7 linked regions of the Homo sapiens genome follow. The protein of the gene in region 1 interacts with the protein of each later gene in a pairwise test. Each region holds a gene or a part of one and is shown in the gene's direction. Other genes may lie near its edges. The genes, in order: LHX3, TSEN54, FIGLA, PARVG, CWF19L2, QRICH1 and CPNE7.

Region 1 (3,190 bases):
CCGAGACGGGCCTGGACATGCGCGTGGTGCAGGTCAGCGCTCGCCCCTGCTTCCCTCCCGCCCGCGGCCTTGGGGGCCCCCGCAGAGCCGGGCGGCCGCTCACCCCGCCCCGCCCCCAGGTTTGGTTCCAGAACCGCCGGGCCAAGGAGAAGAGGCTGAAGAAGGACGCCGGCCGGCAGCGCTGGGGGCAGTATTTCCGCAACATGAAGCGCTCCCGCGGCGGCTCCAAGTCGGACAAGGACAGCGTTCAGGAGGGGCAGGACAGCGACGCTGAGGTCTCCTTCCCCGGTAGGCGGAGGGATCGCGGAGCTCGGGGGGGGACGAGCGCGCGTCGGCGGGGTCGCAGGGGTCCCAGGGAGCCCGCGGATCTGAATTTCCCATGGAGTTAGTGGACTCCTTAAGTTCTACTTTCAAAAGCATTTCACTTACAGAACCTGCTCCCCCAGCACCCTCCCCGCCCTGGGTGGCCACTCCGGACCACTGCTTTTCCCCTGGTGGGGACACAATCCCTGTGGCCCGACCTGTCCCCAAGCTGGGCGCCTACGGGCTTTCTCATGGGGGGGTGGGCGTGTCCAGGCCGTCTCTCTGGCTCCTAGCCCTTGCAGTGATTTTTAGGAGAATGGGCAGTGCATTTCGGGAAAGACTGAGTCGAAGTCCCAGCTGCTTGGAGTTGGGGGAGGGGGCTACCTGGGGTCAGGGAGAGAAGGTTCCATACCCTTCTGTGGGGCCTGGATTATTTATTTCATTCTCCGGGCACCGGGGATGCTGCGTCCCCATCTGTTGATGCCCATCCTCAGAATGTGGACAAGACACTCTCTTTTGGGCTGCCTCGTGACCCGGGCTACTCACTCAGCCACTCTGGAACTAAATATCCTTGTCTGCAAAATGTGGGTGGTGGTATCTGTGCCCCCTTCCTAGGCTGCTGTGGGGCTGGTCCTGAAAGCCTGGGCCCTGGCTGGGCTGTTCCTGACTCTGATCCCACCAGGCCTGAGACACCTGGGCTGACTCAGGGGTGAGGGCAGTGGAGGGGCAGGGGCAGCCATGCTCCAACAGTAGAAGGGGCCTGTTATGACCTGTCATGTGGTGTGGGGCAGCCACTCTTTCTCCGACCCAGGGGTGCCTCCGCCTGCAGGATGGGACTCTGAGGGGCCGCAGGTGGAGGGCAGGCGCTGACTGAGCCTCTGCTTCTGTTGCAGATGAGCCTTCCTTGGCGGAAATGGGCCCGGCCAATGGCCTCTACGGGAGCTTGGGGGAACCCACCCAGGCCTTGGGCCGGCCCTCGGGAGCCCTGGGCAACTTCTCCCTGGAGCATGGAGGCCTGGCAGGCCCAGAGCAGTACCGAGAGCTGCGTCCCGGCAGCCCCTACGGTGTCCCCCCATCCCCCGCCGCCCCGCAGAGCCTCCCTGGCCCCCAGCCCCTCCTCTCCAGCCTGGTGTACCCAGACACCAGCTTGGGCCTTGTGCCCTCGGGAGCCCCCGGCGGGCCCCCACCCATGAGGGTGCTGGCAGGGAACGGACCCAGTTCTGACCTATCCACGGGGAGCAGCGGGGGTTACCCCGACTTCCCTGCCAGCCCCGCCTCCTGGCTGGATGAGGTAGACCACGCTCAGTTCTGACCCAGGCCCGGCTCCACCCTGCACCTCACACGAGGGAGCTGCCCCTGGGTGGGCGGCTCGGGGCTGCTGGGGTTTCCGAGGAAGTGGGGCCAGGGCGTCAAGGGAGGGCTGGTGCCTTCGGAGCCTCCCACTGCCGACCGCACAGCTCCCTCTCTGGGGGCTGAGGGACCCACCTGGCCCCTCCTCTGACACAGGGCTGGCCCGCCAGGTGGCCTCCCAGCAAGCCAGCCTTTTTTGTAAGCAAATTTCTCCCCTTTATTGACCAATTAACTGAGCACTTGCTGCTATTTCTAGACATGAAATGTCACCTTGCTGAGGCCCAGCCCAGCCCAGCATAGCCCGAGGGCTGGAAAAACGCTTTCATCTCTAAAACTGAGAAATCATCATAATTGTGCTTTCACTTCCCAGGCTCCATGTGTCTTGGAGCCGTCACCCCGAGGCTCCCTCTTTAGGTCGGAGATTGGCCTTGCCTGTCGAGGCAAGAGGCTGCAGAGGCGGGGACACACCTGTGTCCTCCGGGAGAGGCCCCCTCCTCTCCCCAGACCACAGGGGGCCTCTCTGCCTCCAGCCCCACCTTCCCCGGGAGAAGCTTTCCCCAATCCCCAGGTCTCTAGATCATTCTGTTCTCGAGTATCCTGTGGAGGAGGCAAAAATGCCTGGCGCCCCTTCTCTCCAAGCTCAATTCTCTAAGCCCCTCAGGGTCTCCTCCTCACCCCACCCCAGGCCCTTGGTGTCCAGGCTGCACCCACAGATGTCTGTTGCCAAACAGCCTGCCCTCCCTGCCGGAGCCGGCTCTGCCAGCCCCAGATTGGGAAGTCTCCCCGCTGGAGAAGGGTGGGGCTCCTCTGAGCCTGCCCTGCCTCCTCCATCAGATCCTTTGGGAAGAAGTTTCTGGGAGATGCCCGCAGCTGTGCGTGCCCCAGACACAAAGGCTGGCCTGTGTGTAAGTCAAAGTCACTCCCGCAAACCTGAATCTCGAGCTACCTATTGGTTCTGTGAATGTTCTGTGTCTTTTATTTATTCTCGGGTGATCAGCTCTTTCCAAGACTTCAATAAATTTGTCAGTTACAGTCAATGGAAGGCCCGCGTTTTTTTGAGGCTGCGGGGGTTGGGGAGTGTTGGGTGTGGGGAACATTCTGTGAATGTTGAGAGGCAGCCCTGGAGGGGCCCTGAGTCCCCCTAGTTCGTTGCTTGGGCTGGCACCTAGTATGAATTTGGGCTCTCTTTATCCCTGGATCTTGGCCATGCTCATGAGCACTGGAAGGAGGTGGGGGGAACAGCCCATCCCTTCCTGATGGAGGGGAGGGGTTGCGGTCTCCACACCCTGTCCCTGGGAGAGGCAGGGGTTGGGATGTCCAGAGAGCATGATGGGGGTGGGAGGTGGGCCGTGTGTGCCATTCACAGCTTGCAGCTGGCACCAACCCCAGGACATAGGCTGGTAGGGTGACCAGGCTCATGGTCATGGAAGTCTCTCCAGCTTGGATTCCAATCCTGGCTCTTCTAACTTGCTGTGTGACCCTGGGCTGGGGGCTGGAACCCTCTGAGCCCTGCTTCCCCGTCCCCACCCCCCAACCC
Region 2 (2,854 bases), on another chromosome or scaffold:
GTTACAGTATGTCACAAAAGCTCTAAAGCAGGCACATCTTTTCTTTTCTTTTTGAGACGGAGTCTCACTCTGTCGCCCAGGCTGTAGTGCAGTGGCATGATCTCAGCTTACTGTAGCCTCTGCCTCCTGGGTTCAAGCAGTTCTCCTGCCTCAGCCTCCCAAGTAGCTGGGATTACAGGCGTGTGCCACCATGCCTGGCTAATTTTTTTATTTTATTTTATTTTTAGTACAGATGGGGTTTCACTGTGTTGCCCAGGCTGGTCTCGAACTCCTGACCTCAAATGATCCTCCCGCCTCAGCCTCCCAAAGTGCTGGGATTACAGGCATGAGTCACCACGCCCAGCTCTACATCTTTTCTTTTCTGAAAGTGGAACCTATCCTAAGGAAATAATCGTGGACGTGTACAGTGGTTCACCTGTGAGAATGATCAACGATATTTATTATTTGCTGGGGGTCAGGCCCTGTACACATCGCTGAGAACAGAAGAGCAAAATCACTGCCCTCACAGAGCTTGCATTTAGTGAGGAGTCACACAGAACACACTCACTGTGCAAAATCAGTGTACTTGCAAACAAGAGTTGAACAAGAGGCAGGCTCACACAAATGAGAGGTTATCCCTTAGAGCAGCTCTGTCCAATAGAACTTTCTGTAATGATGAAAATGTTCTGTGTCTGTGATGTCTAATACATGGGGCTAGAGCAACTGTGGGACTGAATGTTTAATTTCATTTAATTTAAATGTATTTAAATCTAACTTAAATAGGCTGGTGTGGTGGCTCACGCCTATAATCCCAGCATTTTGGGAGGCCGACGCGGGCGGATCGCGTGAGCTCAGGAGTACGAGACCAGCCTGGACAGCGTGGTGAAACCCTGTCTCTACTAAAATACCAAAAAAAAAAAAAAAAAAAAATCAGCCAGGTGTGGTGGCAGGCGCCTATAGTCCCAGCTATTCAGGAGGCTGAGGCACGAGAATTGCTTGAACCTGGGCAGCTGAGGTTGCAGTGAGCCGAGATCTTGCCAGTGCACTCCAGCCTGGGCGAAAAAGCGAAACTCTATCTCAAAAAAAAAAGCAAACTTAAATAGCCACCTGTCGCTAGTGGCTCTTTTTTGAACAGCATTGCCTTAAAGCCTTAATTCACAGCCAGGAGGCCAGGCACAGTGGCTCACACCTGTAATCCCAGCACTTTAGGAGGCCGAGGCAGGTGGATCATGAGGTCAGGAGATGGAGACCATCCCGGCCAGCATGGTGAAACCTTGTCTCTACTAAGAATACAAAAATTAGCTGGGCATGGTGGCACGCGCCTGTAGTCCCGGTACTACTCGGGATGCTGAGGCAGGAGAATCGCTTGAACCCAGGAGATGGAGGTTGCAGTGAGCCAAGATTGTGCCACTGCACTCCAGCCCGGTGAGAGAACGAGACTGTGTCTCAAAAAAAAAAAAAAAAGAAAAAGGAAAAAATTCACAGCAGGGAAGAATGCTGCAGTGACGGGGCTGTGTCCACAATATATTATTGAGTGAAAAAAAAGATCACAAAGCAGTATGCTAGTACAATGACATTTTTGTTAGAAAAAAATATATGGAGAGAGATTAGTGTGTACATAAACGAAAGAAAGATGTTAACAATAGTTATCCAAGGTTTTTATTTTTCTATATTTACCAAGTTTGCTAGCTCCTCTGGGCCATTGCCTAGGCAGAGGCACATGGCTGGGCCCCCTGGCTGGGCCTGTACCCCTCATGGGGGTCTGCTTAGGGCCTTAGCACTTGGGTGTGGCTCCGATCCTGGCCCACTGACTGTCCTCTTGGCCCGTTTCCTTACACATCCCACCAGATCCCCAGGCTGAGGAGGTGGGTCAGTGGCCCACCCGCTGTTCTCACCCCACAGCTCTGTCCTGTCCCCGTATGAGAGGCAGCTTAACCTGGATGCCAGCGTGCAGCACTTGGAGGATGGAGATGGCAAGAGAAAGAGGAGCAGCTCCAGCCCTCGGTAACTCCCACATCACGGTGGCCCCCCAGGGAGTGCTGGTGTCTGGGACCTTGGAAAATGCACAGGCTTTCTAAGAACCAGCAGCTCCCATGCAGGCTCAGGGAGACACTAGGGGACCTGCCTTCAGCTCCCATGGGACGTGTGCACCTTAGCAACCAGGGGCAGATGTGCTGCTTTTCCCCCACGTCCCTCAGGTCCATTAATAAGAAGGCCAAGGCCCTGGACAACTCCCTGCAACCCAAGAGTCTGGCAGCCTCCAGCCCACCTCCCTGCAGCCAGCCCAGCCAATGCCCAGAGGAGAAACCCCAGGAGTCAAGCCCCATGAAGGGCCCAGGGGGCCCCTTTCAGCTTCTGGGGTCCCTGGGCCCCAGCCCTGGCCCGGCCAGGGAGGGGGTGGGGTGCAGCTGGGAGAGTGGCAGAGCCGAGAACGGAGTCACGGGAGCCGGTAAGCGGCGCTGGAACTTCGAGCAGATCTCCTTCCCCAACATGGCTTCAGACAGCCGCCACACCCTTCTGCGCGCCCCAGCCCCAGAGCTGCTCCCGGCCAACGTGGCTGGGCGGGAGACAGACGCTGAGTCCTGGTGCCAGAAGCTGAACCAGCGCAAGGAGAAGCTCTCCAGGCGGGAACGGGAGCACCACGCGGAGGCCGCGCAGTTCCAGGAAGATGTCAACGCCGATCCCGAGGTGCAGCGGTGCTCCAGCTGGCGGGAGTACAAGGAGCTGCTGCAGCGGCGGCAGGTGCAGAGGAGCCAGCGCCGGGCCCCTCACCTGTGGGGCCAGCCCGTCACCCCGCTGCTGAGTCCTGGCCAGGCCAGCTCCCCAGGTACCCCCTCAGCCTGCCACATCTTCGAGGGCCACTGGCAGCTGAGGA
Region 3 (3,500 bases), on another chromosome or scaffold:
ATTCATTTGTGCATATGCTCAGTGTAGATTTTCATATTCTGACCACTTGAGATATAAGATTTCGCTGGCCAGTCAACCCATAGGAGACAGAATTCCTGTTGCTACTACATGAGCTGACATGGAATGACTAAAAGCAACAACAACAAAAGAGTGGGGCCAGGCGCAGTGGCTCACAATTGTCATCCCAGCACTTTGGGAGGCCGAGGTGGGCGGATCACCTGAGGTCAGGAGTTCGAGACCAGCCTGGCCAACATGGTGAAACGCCATTGCTACTAAAAATCAGGCGTGGTGGCGGGCACCTGTAGTCCCAGTTACTCACTCAAGAGGCTGAGGCAGGAGAATCGCTTGAACCTGGGAGGGGAGGTTGCAGTGAGCTGAGATTATGCCACTGCATTCCAGCCTGGGTGACAGAGTGAGACACCATCTCAAAAAAAAAAAAAAAATGACCTGAGCTAGACCTTGAGCCTGACTATCTAAGAAGAGTAATGCTTCTGCAAATGCTAGTATCAAGGTGAAAATCTTACTTGCACTTAATCCTCATTGATCCTTGTCAGGTAGGTGTCATCATGTCACTGTCATGGTGAGCCACCTGGCTACACCTTCCTGCCAGTCCTGTTGGACCTGGGCTGGGACAGGAGCCTCTGCAGTAGCAGAGCAGGCCTGTGCTTGGCAGTACTAGTAGCAAGTACATTTGATGGGAGGTCCTTGTTTTCCAAGGATAATTGAACCTGGGCATAGGCCACGTATAGTACACTAATTTAGAGTGGGGACTAACGTTTCCTAGTAAAAGCCAGAGATGTTCTGACTGGAATTTCCTTCAAAAAAGGGAGTAAAACACTTAATATTTAGTCTTTTTAGCCAACCAAGTTTGTTGTTAATTGGAAGAGTGCTAATTTGTAGAATGAACCAAGGAAGACTCGACGTTTGAGATTTTTATAGACAGTGCATGTCACTTCTGTCAAGTATGACTTCTGAGGCCTGATTGTAAAGAGTGCCATTTTTTTGCAGAAGCATTCTAGTATTTCATCAGTTTTGTCAAGGATTTTTCATCCTTTCACATTCAAATCATTTTTTTTTTTTTTTTTTTGAGACAGAGTCTCGCTCTGTTGCCAGGCTGGAGTGCAGTGGCACCATCTCGACTCACTGCAACCTCCGCCTCCCGGGTTCAAGTAACTCTCCTGCCTCAGCCTCCCGAGTAGCTGGCTCACACCACCACACCCAGCTAATTTTTGTATTTTTAGTAGAGATGGGGTTTCACCATGTTGGCCAGGCTGGACTCAAATTCCTGACTTCGTGATCTGCCCACCTCAGCCTCCCAGAATGCTGGGATTACAGGCATGAGCCACCATGCCCAGCCATTAATTTTTAAAATTAAAAAAATTAGTCTGAAACAATAGTCAACTTATAGAAAGGTTGCAGGTGCAGTACAAAGAACTTTTTTCCTGGCACATTTGAGGGTCAACCTGATGTCCCATCACCCCTAAGGCTTCAGTGTACATTTCTTACAAACAGGACATTCCCCTGCATAGCCACAATGCAACCACTAAGTCTGGGGATTAATGTTGCGGCGTTACCGCCATACAATCCTCAGGTCCCATTCAAGTTTCACCAGTAGTCTCAATAATGTCTCTTCTAGCAAAAAGACCCAGCTGAGAATCATGAATTACATTTAGTTGCCATGGCTCCTTCAGTCTGGAAGGAGAGTTTCTTGGTGCTTCTGTGACTTATAACCATGACACGTTTGGAGATTACAGGCCAGTTGTTTTATAGAGCGTGTCTTGATCAGCATTTGTCTGTTTCCTTTCGATTAGATTCAGATATGCATCGTCGGCAGGAATAACAAAAGTGATGCTGTTTTCTACTCATTGCATCCTATTACATGGGGCAGATTTTGATTTATTCTATTTCTAAGGATATTCACTTTGATCACTTGCTTAAGGTGGTGACTGCCAAGCCTTTCACTTTAATCTTTTTCTTTTGTAATTAATATGTATTTTGTGAGGAGGTGCTTTGAAACTATGTAAAGATCTCATTACTCATCAAACATTCTATATTTATTTATCAAATCTGTAATTTGGAAGTAATTATAGATTCACAGGAAGTTGCAAAAATAGTACAGAAAAGTGCTGTGCATCCGTAGCCCAGTTTTCCGCAATGGTTGCATCTTCCATAACTATAGTATAATATCAAAACTGGGAAACTGACATTGGTACCACGTATGCATAGTTGTATGTTGTTTTATCACACGTGTAGATTCATGGAATCACCATTGCAATCCAGATGCAGAACTGTTCCATCACCACAAAGATCTTCACGCTGCCCCTTTATGGTCACACCTACACTCTGCTCCCAACCCTCCATTCTTCCAAACTCCTGGACATCACTAATCTGTTCTCCACCTCTATAATTTATCTTGAGAATGCTATAAAAATGGGACCATACATTATGTGACTTTTACAGATGGTCTTTTTCCACTCAGATGATGCCCTTGAGATCATCCACATTGTATAAATGGTCTGTTCCTCTGCTTTTTGCTGAGTAGTCATCTGTGGTGTGGATGTACCACAGTTTAACTGTTCACGTAAATATTTTAGAACATTTTGGTTGTTTTTATACAGACATTTTTATATTAGTATGAGCTCATGGTTTTCTGTTTAATTCAGTGGATTATTATATACTATCATTTTTTATTATTTTATTGCTCCAATTGTCCCCACTGTGGCCAGCGAAAGCTCCTTAAGCTGGCAGCCTTTCTGTTTGATATGTCATCACGATTATTTGATCATTTCCTTTTTGGCAGAAGGTGTTCCAAGCTCATCTTGTACTTTTCTATCCCAGCCCTGGAATCAGCCACTTATCTGAGGATGCCCCTGTGTATAACCCATCTCCCATCTCTGTTGCCATCCCCTCACCACATGGCTGTTCTCCTCACCCACTTGAACTTTAACACTCATGGCAAGCTGTACCTCCGCAAAAACCTCCTTCTTGGCTCTGACGTTCCACGCCGGTCCCCTCATATGTGGATTCCTCCTCTCCCTGCTCTCGCTAAATCACCTGCACACACAAGTGCCTGGCCTACTCAGCTCAGGTTTCTCTACTCCATGCTGAACTGCCCCTTTCCATGGACTTCTTACCCAGCTTGGGCTCTGAGTCCCCAGGCCAGGCCTCCACTCCTTTCATGGGGCTGCCGTTCTCATCCTGATTGGGCTGTACCATGTTTGCACTGGACCACACCCCCCATGTGAATATGCCCCTCATCTGCTGGATCTCTGATATCCTGCGCTGGGCTGCCTCTGTATGTGGGTGCCATCTCACCCTGCTTGGGCTCTGATACCACTTCACTTGGGTCACTGTGGCTTCTCACTACCTAACTGTGACCCAACTGATGACATTAGTACTGAATTGTTTAGGAGGGAGAAGAACTCGCATTTTCTTTGAAGTACCTACTGTGCAGCCGTCTTTCTGGCTAGTTTTCTCTTTGTTAACATTTATCTCTGAGA
Region 4 (3,500 bases), on another chromosome or scaffold:
ATCCATCTATTGATCCATCCTTTCTTCCATTCATCTATCTACTTACCCACTTATCCACCCACCCACCTATCCATCCATCCATTCATACACCCATGCATCCATCAACCCATTCTTCCATTCATCTATCCACCCACCCATCCATTTATCCATCCCTCCATCCATCCATTCATGCCTCCATTCATCCATCCACCTACCCATCCATCACCTGTCCATCCATCCATCCACCTATCCATCCATCAACCTATCCATCCATCCATCCATCCATCCACCCACCCACCTATCCACGCATTCATCCATCCATCCATCCCTCCATCCATCCATTCATGCTTCCATTCATCCATCCGCCTACCCATCCATCATCTATCCATCCATCCATCCATACACCCACCTATCCATATATTCATCCATCCATCCATCCATCTATCCATCCATCCACCCACACACCTATCCATCCATCCATTCATCTATCCACCTACCCACCTATTCATCCACCCATTCATCTATCTACCCATCCAACCACCTATGTATTCACCCATATCCATCCATCCTAACACTATTTTTCCTCCCTATACCCTCCCCACTTAGACACATAGCTATGTGGGCAGGGATGCTATGAGGGGCACCTTCCCTGCAGAGGTAGAGATAATAACCTGCCAGGAGCTTCTGAGAATGGGGGCTGAGGAAGGCGGAGTTTGGGGAGAAAGGAGAAAGGAGGGGCAAGGAGGGCTGGCTGAGGATCTGTGTATGTAGCAGGAGGGGCAGCCTGAGGACATGAGGGGTTGCCCAGGGAGCAGTATTTTGGGCAGGGGGCAGCATGAGAAGTGGGTGTCAGAGGGTGAAGAAAGGACACAGAGCAGGGGCATTTTAACGTGCATGATGCTATTTGGTGCTACTTTTCCCCCTTCACTAACAAGGGAACTGAAACAGAGAGAGGTGCTGTGACTTGCTTAGAGTCACACAGCTGCTGAGTGGCAGAAGCCACAGCAAACTCAGGCCAGTCTGTGTATTTGGTGCCCAAGGACCAGTGTCCCCATGGGAGGTATGTTAGCTGCAAATAGCAGGAATCCAGCTAGTGCACAAAGGGCATTAGCCTGAGGACATGGGCACCCGAGGCTGGACCCCAGGGCCTGAGCCGCTGTTCCCAGACCCCAAGGGAGTGACTGAGTTGCTGAAGAGCTGGCCTTTTGCAGGCAGCAGGTTCAGACACTCTTGGGGGCGGGGGGAGGCAGCAGGGAGCAGTCCTCACTCAGCCAATTTAAAACCAAGGGGAGGAGACTCATGGACCCTGATCACCCACCTGTGGCAGCTCCCGTGGCCCTGGGGAGTGGAGTAGGGCCCTGGGAGGAGGGAGTGCCAGCTGGCAGATAAAGGGATGCAGCTGTGCAGATGTAGTAACAGGTGTCAGCTGCAGGAAGAGTGGCTGTTTATGAAGTCCTACTGTGTGCCCAGTCACTGTGCCATGGGGCCATGTGTGTTATCTGCTATGGAATTCCATCTCTGCAACAACCCCAGCTAGGGAGGCACAGAGAGAGACGGTGACTCCCCTGGGGCCACACGGCCAGGAGAGCAGTGACTCAAATCCAGGTCTGTTTTATTTGAGAACCATGATGTAAAACGACAGCTCCCTCTGGACTGGTTATTCTAAGAAACTTTTGTGAAAAAAAAAATTCCCTGTTTGGCACAAAGATAATAGCATCGTAATGAGGTGTTTATTGGATCTGTGTCTGCAGAGGACGTCTTTGATGAATTATTTAAGCTGGCTCCGGAGAAAGTGAACGCAGTGAAAGAGGTAGGAGAGATCAAAGCTCTCAGCGGCTCTCAGGCTGCCCACCCCACCCACTGCCCACCTGCGCTGTAGGAGGGAATCACGGGTCCTCCCATCACACCTGCTGTGTGCTAGGCCCTTGTTCTTCCCTGGTTAGGCCATCGTGAACTTTGTCAACCAGAAGCTGGACCGCCTGGGCCTGTCTGTGCAGAATCTGGACACCCAGGTAGGGACTGAGCTGCGGCGTCCCCAGGCAGGGCAGGGCCACTGGCCGTAGGAAGGAAAGAGGGTTCTGCAGGCCCTGGGAACCTGCTGTGTGGTGGGGGTTGCATCACCTCTTGGAGCCTTAGGGTCCCCCTCCCCGGTGGGACTGTTGCTGGCAGGCAGCAGTGGTCACCAGGGACATGGTGGGATCCCGGGGGTGGAGGTGTGGGAACACTTCACAAAGCTGGAGTCACCTCGGCTGTCACTGCTTCTCATTGTTATAATTTTATTTTATAATTAATCTCAGACTAGCTGATGCCAAGACTTGAAGCATATGAGTCTTCCCTGCGTGGTTGTGTTCGCCCAAACAGAATTTATTAGATTTGTCCCATGTGCCAGGCGTAGGTGACAGCGCAGCCCAGCCGTCTGCAGGCTCCATGTCTCTCACAAGCACCCTGAGGAGCCCAGCCCCTCCCCCGGCTGACTTAAGTCGAATTTTCCCAGGAGCAGGAGCAGAATCTCAGGGGGTCAGCACCCACCATGGGCTGTGGCTTTCCACAGTGAAGCTGTGTCCCTGTAGGCTTCCCACACTGCAGGGGAGCAGGGGGTGCACAGTAGCAGACCGGCTGCCAGCCCGGGGCCTGCAGAGTGGGCATGGAGTCTGCTGGATGCCAGTGGCCTGAATGGGACATGACGTAGGCATCTGGCCACCTGGGTTCTGCTGGGTGCTGGGGTCTGGGGTGGGGAGGGAGTCTGGTCCCAGATGGACCAGTTGGCTCATGAAGATCGTAGCCAGAGCTGCTGACCTCTCAGAGAGACTCTGGATGGGCATTGGCTGGGGAGGGAGGGGTTAATGTACTCCCATGCCTAGTAGCTAAAACCAATAAAGCCCTCACTATGTGCCAGTCCCAGGGCAAAATGCTTTCCATGTTAACTCATTGAATCCTCTCCATAATCCTCTGAAGTGGGAACTGTACTACCCCACTTACAGAGGAGGATGTTAAGGCACAGAGAGGTTAATTAACTTGTCTAAAGTCACACAGTGATAAGTAGTGGACCTGGGATTTGAACCCAGGCAGCTGGGGCCAGAGTTAGTGCTTATAACCACCTCACATGGTGGCCACGTGAGAAGTTTGTGTGTGATATGGTGTGGCAGCATGGCAGGGTGGAAGTATCACGCTCTGTAGCCAGACAGACACACATTTCCCTCCTGCCTCCACCACTTATGGGCCCTGGGGTCTGCTGAGAACCCTCCACATTTGCTGTGTGACCTTGGGTGAGTTACTGGACTTCTCTGAACCTCAGGCTCTTCTTCTTATAAAGTGGGTACAAGATAGCAACTTGGTAGAATTGTGAGTGATACATGAGCTGGTGAGCCCCACGTGTTTGGTATATTACCTGGCACGCTGCCGGCATGAAATAAGTGAGAGATTTGTAGTTTTATTATATTTTATGTGGGTATAAACAGGATGATTTCTGAGATTTACATTCTACCTGTTCTATCTGTATCTCTCCCTTGGTAAAATAATGG
Region 5 (3,500 bases), on another chromosome or scaffold:
ATAGCACTGTTGTATCTCTACGTAACTTTGATGTTATATTTTCATTGCTGTCCCATTCAAAATATTTTTTACTTTACTTTTTCTTACTCATGGATATATAAGAGTTTTTAAACTTGCAGATATTTGTGGATTTTTCTAGTTTTTTTTTGGGTTATTGACTTTGATTTTAATTATTATGTTATACTCTGTATAATTTCAGTTTTTAAAAAGTTTTTGAGACATTTTATTTTCTAGCCTATGATCTATTTTGGTGAAAATTCCATATGTATTTGAAATGAGTATGTATTCTGCCATTGTTAGGTATAGTGTTTTATAAATGTCAATTAGGGAAAGTTGACTAATAGTATTAAGTTTAGTGTTAATGATTTTCTGTTCACCTGTTCAGTCAGTTACTGAGAAAATAGTATTGAAATCTCTTAATTGTTTTGTGGATTTTACCTATTTCTGCTTTCAGTTTTGTCAGTTTTTGCCTTATGTAATTTTGAAGCTTTATTAGGTACATAGACAGCTCCTTGATGAACTGACTGTTGTTACGAAGTTTTCGTTTTTATCTTTGGTAATACTCTTGTCTGAAGTCTCTTGTATCTCATATTAATAAAGCCTCTTCAGTTTTCTTTTTTTGTGTGTTTTCATCGTCTTTTTAAAATTCTTTTAGTTTTAATGTACCTTTTTTATATATTGAAAGTGTATTTCTTGTAAGCAGTGTATAATTGGGTCTTGCTTTTTTATCTCGCCTATCAATTTCTTCTTTTTTATTTTATTGATTGATTGATTTATTGATTGATTGACAGAGTCTTGCTTTGTTGCCCAGGCTAGAGTGTAGTAGATCACTGCAGCTTCAACCCCTGGGGCTCAAGTGACTCTCCCACCTCAGCCTCTTGAAAGCTGGGACTACGGGTGTGCACTTCGACGTCCAGGATATATATATATGAGTTTTTAAATTTCCAGATATTTGTGGATTTTATTAGGTTTTTTTGGTTATTGACTTTGGATTTAATTATTATTTTATTGTACTCTGTATAATTTCAGTTGTTAAAAAGTTTTTGAGACATTTTATATTCTAGCCTATGATCTATATATATTTTGTAGAGATGTGGTTTTGCCATGTTGCCCAGCCTGGTCTCAAAGTCTTGACCTTAAGCAATCCTCCCACCTGGGACTCCCAAAGTGCTGGAATTACAAATGTGAGCCACTGCATCTGGCCTCTTCCTTTTTTTTTTTTTTCTTGAGATGGAGTCTCACACTGTCACCCAGGCTGGAGTGCAGTGCCGCAATCTTGGCTCACGTCTCTTACTTTTCAATTAGATGTTTTTTGTGCTCTCTAATCTGTTAGCTGTTTATGGCTTTTAAATTTTTTGTTAAAATTCATTAAAATTATATCAGCCAAATTTATGTGGCTACTATATTCGACAGTATATAGAAAAATTCTTTGAATAGTACTGGTTTGGATTATTTATGTTTAATGTAATAATTGATATGGATGAGTTTAAGTCTACCATGTTGTTATTCCTTTTCTATTTTTTCTTTGTTCTTTTTTCCTTTGTTCCTTCCTTTTCCTGTCTTTTGGATCGAGTGTTTTTTAGCATCCCATTTCATCTGCTGTAGGCTTATTAGGTATACCTTATTTATTTTTAATGACTGCTTTAAGTCTTATGCATATTTTAACTTACCATACTCTCAAATAATATATAATTTTACTTTTATAATTAGACTTTCACCAAAATATACTTCCATTTTCTCCTACCATATTTTTTGCTATTGTTGTCATATATTTTACTTCTACATATGTTATAAACCCACATTGTTTATAATTTTTAATGTCATACATTCTTTTTATTTATACTTTAGTCAGTTATCTTTTAAATAAGTTACACATATGAAGAAAGTCTTTTATATTTACCCACAGATTTATCATCTCTGATATTCTTTATTATTTTATGTAGGTCTGAATTTCTGTCTAATACCATTTTCCTTTTGTCTGTAGAACTTTCATTAACATGTATTATAATATGGATTTGCAGACATTGTATTCTCTCAGCTTTTGTTTGAAAATTTCTTTTATTTCATCTTCATTCTTTTTTTCTTTTACCACAAACTCAGAAGTTCCTACTAGCAATCTTCATTTTTCAGATACTTGGCTAGATAAAGAATTTTAAGTTTATAGTGTTTTCTTTTTTTTTTTTTTTTTGCACTGTAAAATGTCATCCCATTGTCTTCTGGTTTGCATTGTACATATTGAGAACTCTGTAGTCATTGTAATATTTTTTCTCTGTATGTAGTGTGCCTTTTTATTCTGGATGCTTTTAGGGCTTTTTTTTTCATCATTATTTTTCAGTGAATCAATTGTGATATGTCTTGGTATTGATTTCTTTGTGTTTATTCTACTGTCTTAGTTCATTTGGGCTGCTATACCAAAACTAACTGGGTGGATTATAAATGACAGAAACTTATTTCTCACAGTTTGGGAGGCTAGAAAGTCTAAGATCGAGGCGCTGGTAGACTTTGTGTCTGATGAGGGTTCAGTTCCTCAGAGATGGCTGTCTTCTCACTCTAACCTCATATGGCAGAAGGGAGTGCTCTTGGGCTATGTTTTATAAGGGCACTAATCCCATTCCCAGTCATCTCCCAAAGGCCTCAGCCCCTATTATCATTGTCTTGGGAGTCAGGATCTCAACATAAGAATTTGGTGGGGGACACAAACATTCAGAGTGTAGCATCTGCCTTAGGTTCATTGTGCTGCTTTGATTTGTGAGTTTACAGTTTCCATCAAATATGAAACTTTCAGGCTTTTTTCGAAGTATTTTTTTTTTCTGTTCCCTCTCATTTTGGTAGTCTCCTTAAAATAATGTCTCACAGGTTGATGAGCCTGTGTTCACTTACTTTCTAGCCTTTTTCCTTTCTATGCCTTGGGTTGGGTATATTTTATTGCTATGTCGTGAGCTTCAGGTTTACTGGCCTTTTTTTTTTTTTTTTTTTTTTTTTGTGACGGAGTCTCGCTCTGTTGCCAGGCGGGAGTGCAGTGGCGTGATCTCAGCTCACTGCAACCTCCGCCTCCTGGGTTGAAGTGATTCTCGTCCCTCAGCCTCCTGAGTAGTTGGGATTACAGGTGCTCATCACCACGTCCAGCTAATTGTTTGTATTTTTAGTGGAGATGGGGTTTCACCATGTTGGCCAGGATGGTCTGGATCTCCTGACCTCGTGATCTGCCTGCCTCAGCCTCCCAAAGTGCTGGGATTACAGGTGTGAGCCACTGCGCCTGGCCGACTGGCCTTTTCTTTTGCTGTGTCTAGCTTACTGTTATCCCTATCCAGTGACATTTTCATTTCAGGTACTGTATTTTTTTTTTATCATTAGATGTTTCGTTTGGATCTTTCTAATGTTTTTCAGTTTATCTCCTCATTATCTTTACATTTTCCCTTCCTTGAACATATTTATGATAGCTGTGTTAAAGTCTTGGTTTGCTGTTTCATTTTCTCTTGTTTTTTCCTGTTCTGTTTCAA
Region 6 (2,932 bases), on another chromosome or scaffold:
GGTCACAAAATAGCCGAAAAGTAGACAAAAAATAGAGTCAGAACTGCCTTAAAGAGATGGAAATGCACTATTAGAGAGCCAGCTTTGTTTTGGCAAGAGCATAGAACACAGAAGAGGAGTGTATCGGGCAGAATGTTCTTTTTTCTGCTTCCAGGAAGTGTCACACACTGTGCTTGCTTGGAGAATCCCGAAACCCTGCAGGAGAATACTGTTGCCTGCTCCTATCTCATTATGCACCCAGTGCACAAACATGTGCATACTGACTGACTTCAGCACATGAAGGGGCTTGGTAGTCATTCAAATGTCATCTTTCTTTGGTGCAGACCTGGCTGACCAGGGCTCTTATTCAAATTATTGACCTTTGCCTGTACCTAGCTCTGGGCTCACTTATGAACCAGGGTCTTACAGTAACACCAGCCCTGTGGGGGGGATCTTGTAATAGTTCAAATACTGGCATATTGGCTAGGCGTGGTGGTTCACGCCTGTATTTCTAACTGCTCAGGAAACTGGCAGGAGGAGTCTTTGAGTCCAAGAGCTCAAGGCTGCAGTTAGCCATGATTGTGTCACTGTACTCTAGCTTGGGTGACAGAGCGAAACCCCATCTCTTTTTTTTCCCTTTTTTTTTTTTTTGAGACAGGATCTCACTCTGTCACCCAGGCTTAAGTACAGTGGTGCGATCACGGCTCACTGCAGCCTTGACCTCCCAGGCCCAAGGAATCCTCCCACCTCAGCCTCCCTGGTAGCTGGGATCACAGATGTGCACCATCACACGACTAATTTTTTTGATTTTCAGTGGAGATGAGGTCTGGCTATGTTGCCCAGGCTGGTCTTCAACTCTTGGGCTCAAACAATTCTCCCACCTCCGCCTCCCAAAGTTCTCGGATTACAGGCGTGAGCCACCATGCCTGGTCTTCCTTTTTTAAAAAAAGATAAATATTGTAGAAGAGACCCTGTATCTTAGCTAATAATAATAATAATAATAATAATAATAAAATCCCCCAAAGAGTATCAGTCTCTTTATCTAGAGAAGAAATGACAATAGCCGTTTTTTTTGTTTTTTTTGTTTTTTTGTTTTTTTGTTTTTGAGATGGGAGTCTCGCTCTGTTGCCGAGGCTGGAGTGCAGTGGTGCAATCTCGGCTCACTGCAAGCTCCACCTTCTGGGTTCACACCATTCTCCTGTCTCAGCCTCCCGATTAGCTGGGACTACAGGAGCCCGCCACCACACCCGGCTATTTTTTGTGTTTTTAGTAGAGACGGGGTTTCACCATATTGGCCAGGATGGTCTCAATCTCCTGACCTCGTGATCCACCCGCCTCGGCCTTCCAAAGTGCTGGGATTACAGGCATCAGCCACTGCGCCTGGCCGGCCTTGCTTTTTAGAGACAGTTGAGATGAGAGAAGACTTGGTAAGGGCAAACGGGCGTGCATGCCAGTTCTTTGGGTCCTGGACCACCTTTGAAAATATGCAAAGCTCTGTACACTCTCAGAGAATTATGCATATATGCAGAGTTTGGTTTATAGTTTTCTGTACTTCACTGTCTCTGAGGGCAGTCTTTTTGCCCTGTGTTAGCCTTGGATTAGAGGGTAACAACAATCATGTAAGGCTGTGGTTCTCAAGTGTGGTGTTAGAAGTGCTCATCATCAGGTTCCACCTCAGAAACAGATTGGGACCCAGCTATCTGTGTTTTAAGAAGCTTTCCAGATGATTTTTGCCACACTTTAGGGAGAGTCCCCTGATGAAATTTATACTCCTGTGTGGTCCTTATGCTTCACACATCCCATATTGTACCTTTGAGAGACCACCTGCCATCCTCTTGTTGTGACAGTACTCTATTCCTCCTAGGCTATGTCTTGCCCAGCCACGTGACTGAGGAGATGCTATGGGAGTGCAAGCAGCTTGGGGCTCACTCCCCCTCCACCTTGCTGACCACCCTCATGTTCTTTAATACCAAGTAAGTGTTCTAGAGGCTCCACTGCTGGCATCTGTCCAGTGAAGAGTGTGGAAGCTATCCAAGAGGCCTTCTGAATTCCTCTGACATATATTTGAGAAACTGGGCTACTGAAAGCCCTAACCCCACTTGGCTGCATTTTATTTGGTAACCAGTGAGGCAAACACCCTTGCCAGACCCCTACCATCCATCTTGATGTGGTTCCTGCACTGGACACTGCTTGGGTACGGGCCTGCCCAGATCTTGGGAATGTGGGCAGTGGCTCCTCTGAAGCACCAGTGGGCAGAGGATGAGTCATGGTATCCTCCCGGCACCCCTCCCTCTGCCTTGCATTTTACTTGTGATCCAGGTACTTCCTATTGAAGACAGTGGACCAGCACATGAAGCTGGCCTTCTCCAAGGTCTTGCGACAGACAAAGAAGAACCCCTCTAATCCCAAGGATAAAAGCACGAGTATCCGGTACTTGAAGGCCCTTGGAATACACCAGACTGGCCAGAAAGGTAGGGAAAGGAGGCAGGGATGGCAAAAACAGGTGCTACTTGTCCTGCCCTGTCCTGCCCTTGTGCCTGTGAGGCTAGTGATAAGTGTAAAGGTTGGGATTTGCTGGATAAAATTCTCCACTCCCTTCTCCCCAGCCAAAAATTCCAAACTTTCCTCCTAGAAGCAGAGAAGCCCCAGACAGAATAGCTGCCTCTTCCCTTAGTAGTCACTGCCCATGCCTCATACCTTCCCTCCCCCGACCCTGTATTTCCTAGTTGGGCTGGCTGAAAGCCTAAGTTTCCTGATCTGGGCCTGAGGTAAGGCAGTCTGATGCCAGGTCTGTGGTGGTGGGGATGTGTGTTTTATAGTTACAGATGACATGTATGCAGAACAGACGGAAAATCCAGAGAATCCATTGAGATGTCCCATCAAGCTCTATGATTTCTACCTCTTCAAATGGTGAGGCTTTATTGTGACTTGCTGTCCATGTGTGCGCATGTGT
Region 7 (3,500 bases), on another chromosome or scaffold:
CTCAAGCCTGGGTGACAGAGCAAGACTCCGTCTCAAAAAAAAGAGACTCTGCGAGGAAGGGCTGGGTAGCCCTACTGGAGGCTGCCGCATAGACTCTGCACATGGTCCTGGGGGGACGTCTGTGTCCCGCTTTGCCAGAATAGCAAACCGAAGTCACAGAGGCTTGGGGCTCACCCGCGTATGCTTTACCAGGGAGGGCCCGGCACAAAACCCTGTGCTCTGAGCTTCTTACCACAACACAGACCCCTGGCCTGGGGCTTGGGAGAGGATGCCCTGAGCTCCCTACCCTACAGACCTCTCTTTCTGGGTTGGTGAGGGCCACAGTGGGTTCCTTGGCCCCACAGGACCCCTCCCGTGGTCTGAGAGCCCCCGGGGAGGCGTCTGCAGGGGGACAGCATGTACACAAACGTGGAGTTGGGAGGCAGGCTCGCGGGCGGCAGGACCGTGTCCCCTTGCACACAGGCCTGTGCCTCTGCTGCCCTGAGCCTCGGTTCCCCACCTCTGGCAGGTGCTTACTGCCGTGGTACCAGGCCTGGGCACCCCCAGTCTTTTGGGCGCCAGTCATGTCTCCCTAGAAGTGGCCCCTGTTGCAGCCACAAGAGGTCAGGGCCTCCTGGTGACCTCCTGCCTCTCTTCCAGTGACAAGAGGTTTTCCGCTTTGGGGTTTGGAGCCCGGATCCCTCCCAAGTATGAGGTAGGAGAGCCCAGAACCTGAGACCTCAGAGCTGTGCCCTTCTCGTGCCCTCCCAGGCAGAGGACGGCCTGGCCCAGGGAGCCCTGGCTGCCTGCTGGGAACCGGAGACTGTAGGATGGGATTGGGGTGCAAAGCGGGAACCCCAGCCTTCTAGCCAGAGAGGCTGGCCTTTGGCCTCCTAGGACTTGTTAGCTTGAGGGGTGTCTGGAGGCCAACTCCGTGTTCCTTCAGGAGATAGGGAAGGACGTTAGTGTGGAATCCTCTATTGCACATAACAATTCAGCTAGCTTCGGCCAGGCGTGGTGGCTCACGCCTGTAATCCCAGCACTTTGGGAGGCCGAGGCGGGCCGATTACCTGAGGTCAGGAGTTCCAGACCAGCCTGGCCATCATGGTGAAACCCCATCTCTACCAAAAATACAAAAATTAGCTGGGCGTGGTGGCACATGCTTGTAATCCCAGCTACTCGGGAGGCTGAAGCAAGAGAATTGCTTGAACCCGGGAGGCAGAGGTTGCACTGAGCTGAGATCGCACCACTGCAGTCCAGCCTGGCCTGTAGAGCAAGACTCTGTTTTAAAAAAGAAAAAAGAAAACAACAAAAAACTTCAACTGGCTTCAGCAGAAAAAATGGTGTGTGGGGATTTATTGGCTAATGTAAGCCTCAGGCACTGCTGGATCCAGGGAGGTCTGCCTCCCTCTCTGTTTCATGACTCTGCAGAACATGGTCACCCATGGGTTTGGCTTCCCCTAGAAACTCCAAGCCTACCTCTCTCAGTAGGTGGGGGACATGGGGGCCAGGTCGGGGGAGCAGCTGACTGGGGGACATGGGGGCCGGGGACGGGGGGAGCAGCTGACTGGGGGACATGGGGGCCGGGGACGGGGGGAGCAGCTGACCGAGCCCTCTTTAGTAGGCGGGGGACATGAGGGCGGGGACGGGGGGAGCAGCTGACTGGGGGACATGGGGGCTGGGGACGGGGGGAGCAGCTGACCGAGGGACATGGGGCCAGTGGGGTGTGTTGCAACGAGCAGCTGACTGAGCCCTCTTGTTCCCACCCAGGTGTCCCATGACTTTGCCATCAATTTCAACCCTGAGGACGATGAGTGTGAAGGTAGGAGCTCGAGGCAGGCCTGGGGAGGGGAGTGCAGGGGGGCCGGGCTCACCCCCTGCCCCCCACAGGCATCCAGGGCGTGGTGGAGGCCTACCAGAACTGCCTGCCCAGGGTCCAGCTCTACGGCCCCACCAACGTGGCGCCCATCATCTCCAAGGTGGCACGCGTGGCGGCGGCCGAGGAGAGCACCGGGAAAGCCTCTGTAGGTGCCCGGGGGGTGTGGTGCATGCTTGGTGTGGGGTCGGCTGTGTGTGCACCAGCGCGTGGACGTCAGGGAGGCACCTGGCAGAGGGAACAGCCAGCGCAGAGGCCCCCAGGCAGGACAGAGCTCAGGAGGGCGGGGGCCCAGCTGGTTGACTACGTCTCCCTCAAAGGTGCAGGTGTCTCGGGCACAGGGCTGTCCATCGCCTCACACGGTCACGGCCATGGCTGCAGCGAGGCTGCCCCTCTCCTCTTCCTCTGGGCACCACAAGGCCGCGCACATGTCTACTGTTTGGCTGTGTGTGTATCGTCATTTTGTTTACATGTGTCTTTCCTTTGCACAAATGATACGGTGCCGAGAACTGCACTGGATTCTACTCTGCCACCGTGTGGCCCTGTATGTGTCTCTGGGGCCACAGCCAGCCTGCTGCTTTCTTTTCTTTTCTTTTGTTTTTTGTGAGACAGAGTCTCACTCTGTCACCCAGGCTGGAGTGCAGTGATGTGATCCCAGCTCACTGCAACCTCTGCTTCCCGGGGTTCACGCCATTCTCCTGCCTCAGCCTCCCAAGGAGCTGGGACTACAGGCGCCCGCCACCACTTCTGGCTAATTTTTGTATTTTTAGTAGAGACGGGGTTTCACCCTGTTGGCCAAGCTGGTCTCAAACTCCTGACCTCATGATCCACCCGCCTCGGCCTCCCAAAGTGCTGGGATTACAGGCGTGAGCCACCGTGCCCGGCATTCTTTTTTTTGTTGTTTTTTTTTTTTGAGACGGAGTCTCGCTCTGTCACCCAGGCTGGAAGTGTAGTGGCGCAATCTCCGCTCACTGCAACCTCCCCCTCCCAGGTTCGCGCCATTCTCCTGCCTCAGCCTCCTAAGTAGCTGGGACTACAGGCGCCCACCATCATGCCCGGCTAATTTTTTTTTTTTGTATTTTTAGTAGAGACGGGGTTTCACCGTGTTAGCGAGGATGGTCTCGATCTCCTGACCTCGTGATCCACCCGCCTCGGCCTCCCAAAGTGCTGGGATTACAGGTGTGAGCCGCCGCGCCCGGCCCAAAATAATTTTAAACTCACCAAAAAGTTACAAGAGCTCTGAGGTCCTGCAACCCGTGAGGCCAACAGCTGCTCACACATTGCGCTCCTGCTTCACGTCTGTGTAGTTGTTGTATTTGTATGTTTTCTTTTTCAATTTTTTTTTTTTTTTTTGAGATAGAGTCCTGCTCTGTCACCCAAGCTGTAGTGGTGCAATCTCGGCTCACTGCAAGCTCCACCCTCCGAGTTCAAGCAATTCTCCTGCCTCAGCCTCCCGAGTAGCTGGGATTACAGGCTCCCGCCACCACGCCCGGCTAATTTTTTGTATTTTTAGTAGAGACGGGGTTTCACAGTCTTGGCCAGGCTGGTCTTAAACTCCTGACCTTGTGATCCACCCGCCTCGGCCTCCCAAAGTGCTGGGATTACAGGAGTGAGCCACCGCGCCCAGCCCAAATTTTTTTTATTG

Evidence for each region.
Region 2: the proteins of LHX3 (region 1) and TSEN54 interact in binary tests that used the Homo sapiens proteins (3 or more experiments, as listed by UniProt).
Region 3: the proteins of LHX3 (region 1) and FIGLA interact in binary tests that used the Homo sapiens proteins (3 or more experiments, as listed by UniProt).
Region 4: the proteins of LHX3 (region 1) and PARVG interact in binary tests that used the Homo sapiens proteins (3 or more experiments, as listed by UniProt).
Region 5: the proteins of LHX3 (region 1) and CWF19L2 interact in binary tests that used the Homo sapiens proteins (3 or more experiments, as listed by UniProt).
Region 6: the proteins of LHX3 (region 1) and QRICH1 interact in binary tests that used the Homo sapiens proteins (3 or more experiments, as listed by UniProt).
Region 7: the proteins of LHX3 (region 1) and CPNE7 interact in binary tests that used the Homo sapiens proteins (3 or more experiments, as listed by UniProt).

Annotation. Positions count from the first base shown.
Region 1 is NC_000009.12:136,195,750-136,198,939, reverse strand, and holds the end of LHX3 (LIM/homeobox protein Lhx3), read left to right. Parts: coding exon 1-32; intron 33-119; coding exon 120-288; intron 289-1,196; coding exon 1,197-1,615; 3' UTR 1,616-2,690; downstream 2,691-3,190. UniProt on the Homo sapiens protein: Transcription factor.
Region 2 is NC_000017.11:75,519,528-75,522,381, forward strand, and holds part of TSEN54 (tRNA-splicing endonuclease subunit Sen54), read left to right. Parts: intron 1-1,881; coding exon 1,882-1,983; intron 1,984-2,177; coding exon 2,178-2,806; intron 2,807-2,854.
Region 3 is NC_000002.12:70,780,644-70,784,143, reverse strand, and holds part of FIGLA (factor in the germline alpha), read left to right. Parts: intron 1-3,500. UniProt on the Homo sapiens protein: Germline specific transcription factor implicated in postnatal oocyte-specific gene expression.
Region 4 is NC_000022.11:44,194,425-44,197,924, forward strand, and holds part of PARVG (gamma-parvin), read left to right. Parts: intron 1-1,730; coding exon 1,731-1,789; intron 1,790-1,922; coding exon 1,923-1,991; intron 1,992-3,500. UniProt on the Homo sapiens protein: Plays a role with ILK in promoting the cell adhesion and spreading of leukocytes.
Region 5 is NC_000011.10:107,447,826-107,451,325, reverse strand, and holds part of CWF19L2 (CWF19-like protein 2), read left to right. Parts: intron 1-3,500.
Region 6 is NC_000003.12:49,032,140-49,035,071, reverse strand, and holds part of QRICH1 (transcriptional regulator QRICH1), read left to right. Parts: intron 1-1,843; coding exon 1,844-1,952; intron 1,953-2,298; coding exon 2,299-2,450; intron 2,451-2,798; coding exon 2,799-2,889; intron 2,890-2,932. UniProt on the Homo sapiens protein: Transcriptional regulator that acts as a mediator of the integrated stress response (ISR) through transcriptional control of protein homeostasis under conditions of ER stress.
Region 7 is NC_000016.10:89,589,258-89,592,757, forward strand, and holds part of CPNE7 (copine-7), read left to right. Parts: intron 1-639; coding exon 640-694; intron 695-1,749; coding exon 1,750-1,801; intron 1,802-1,869; coding exon 1,870-2,003; intron 2,004-2,940; coding exon of another isoform or gene 2,941-2,943; exon of another isoform or gene 2,944-3,500. UniProt on the Homo sapiens protein: Calcium-dependent phospholipid-binding protein that may play a role in calcium-mediated intracellular processes.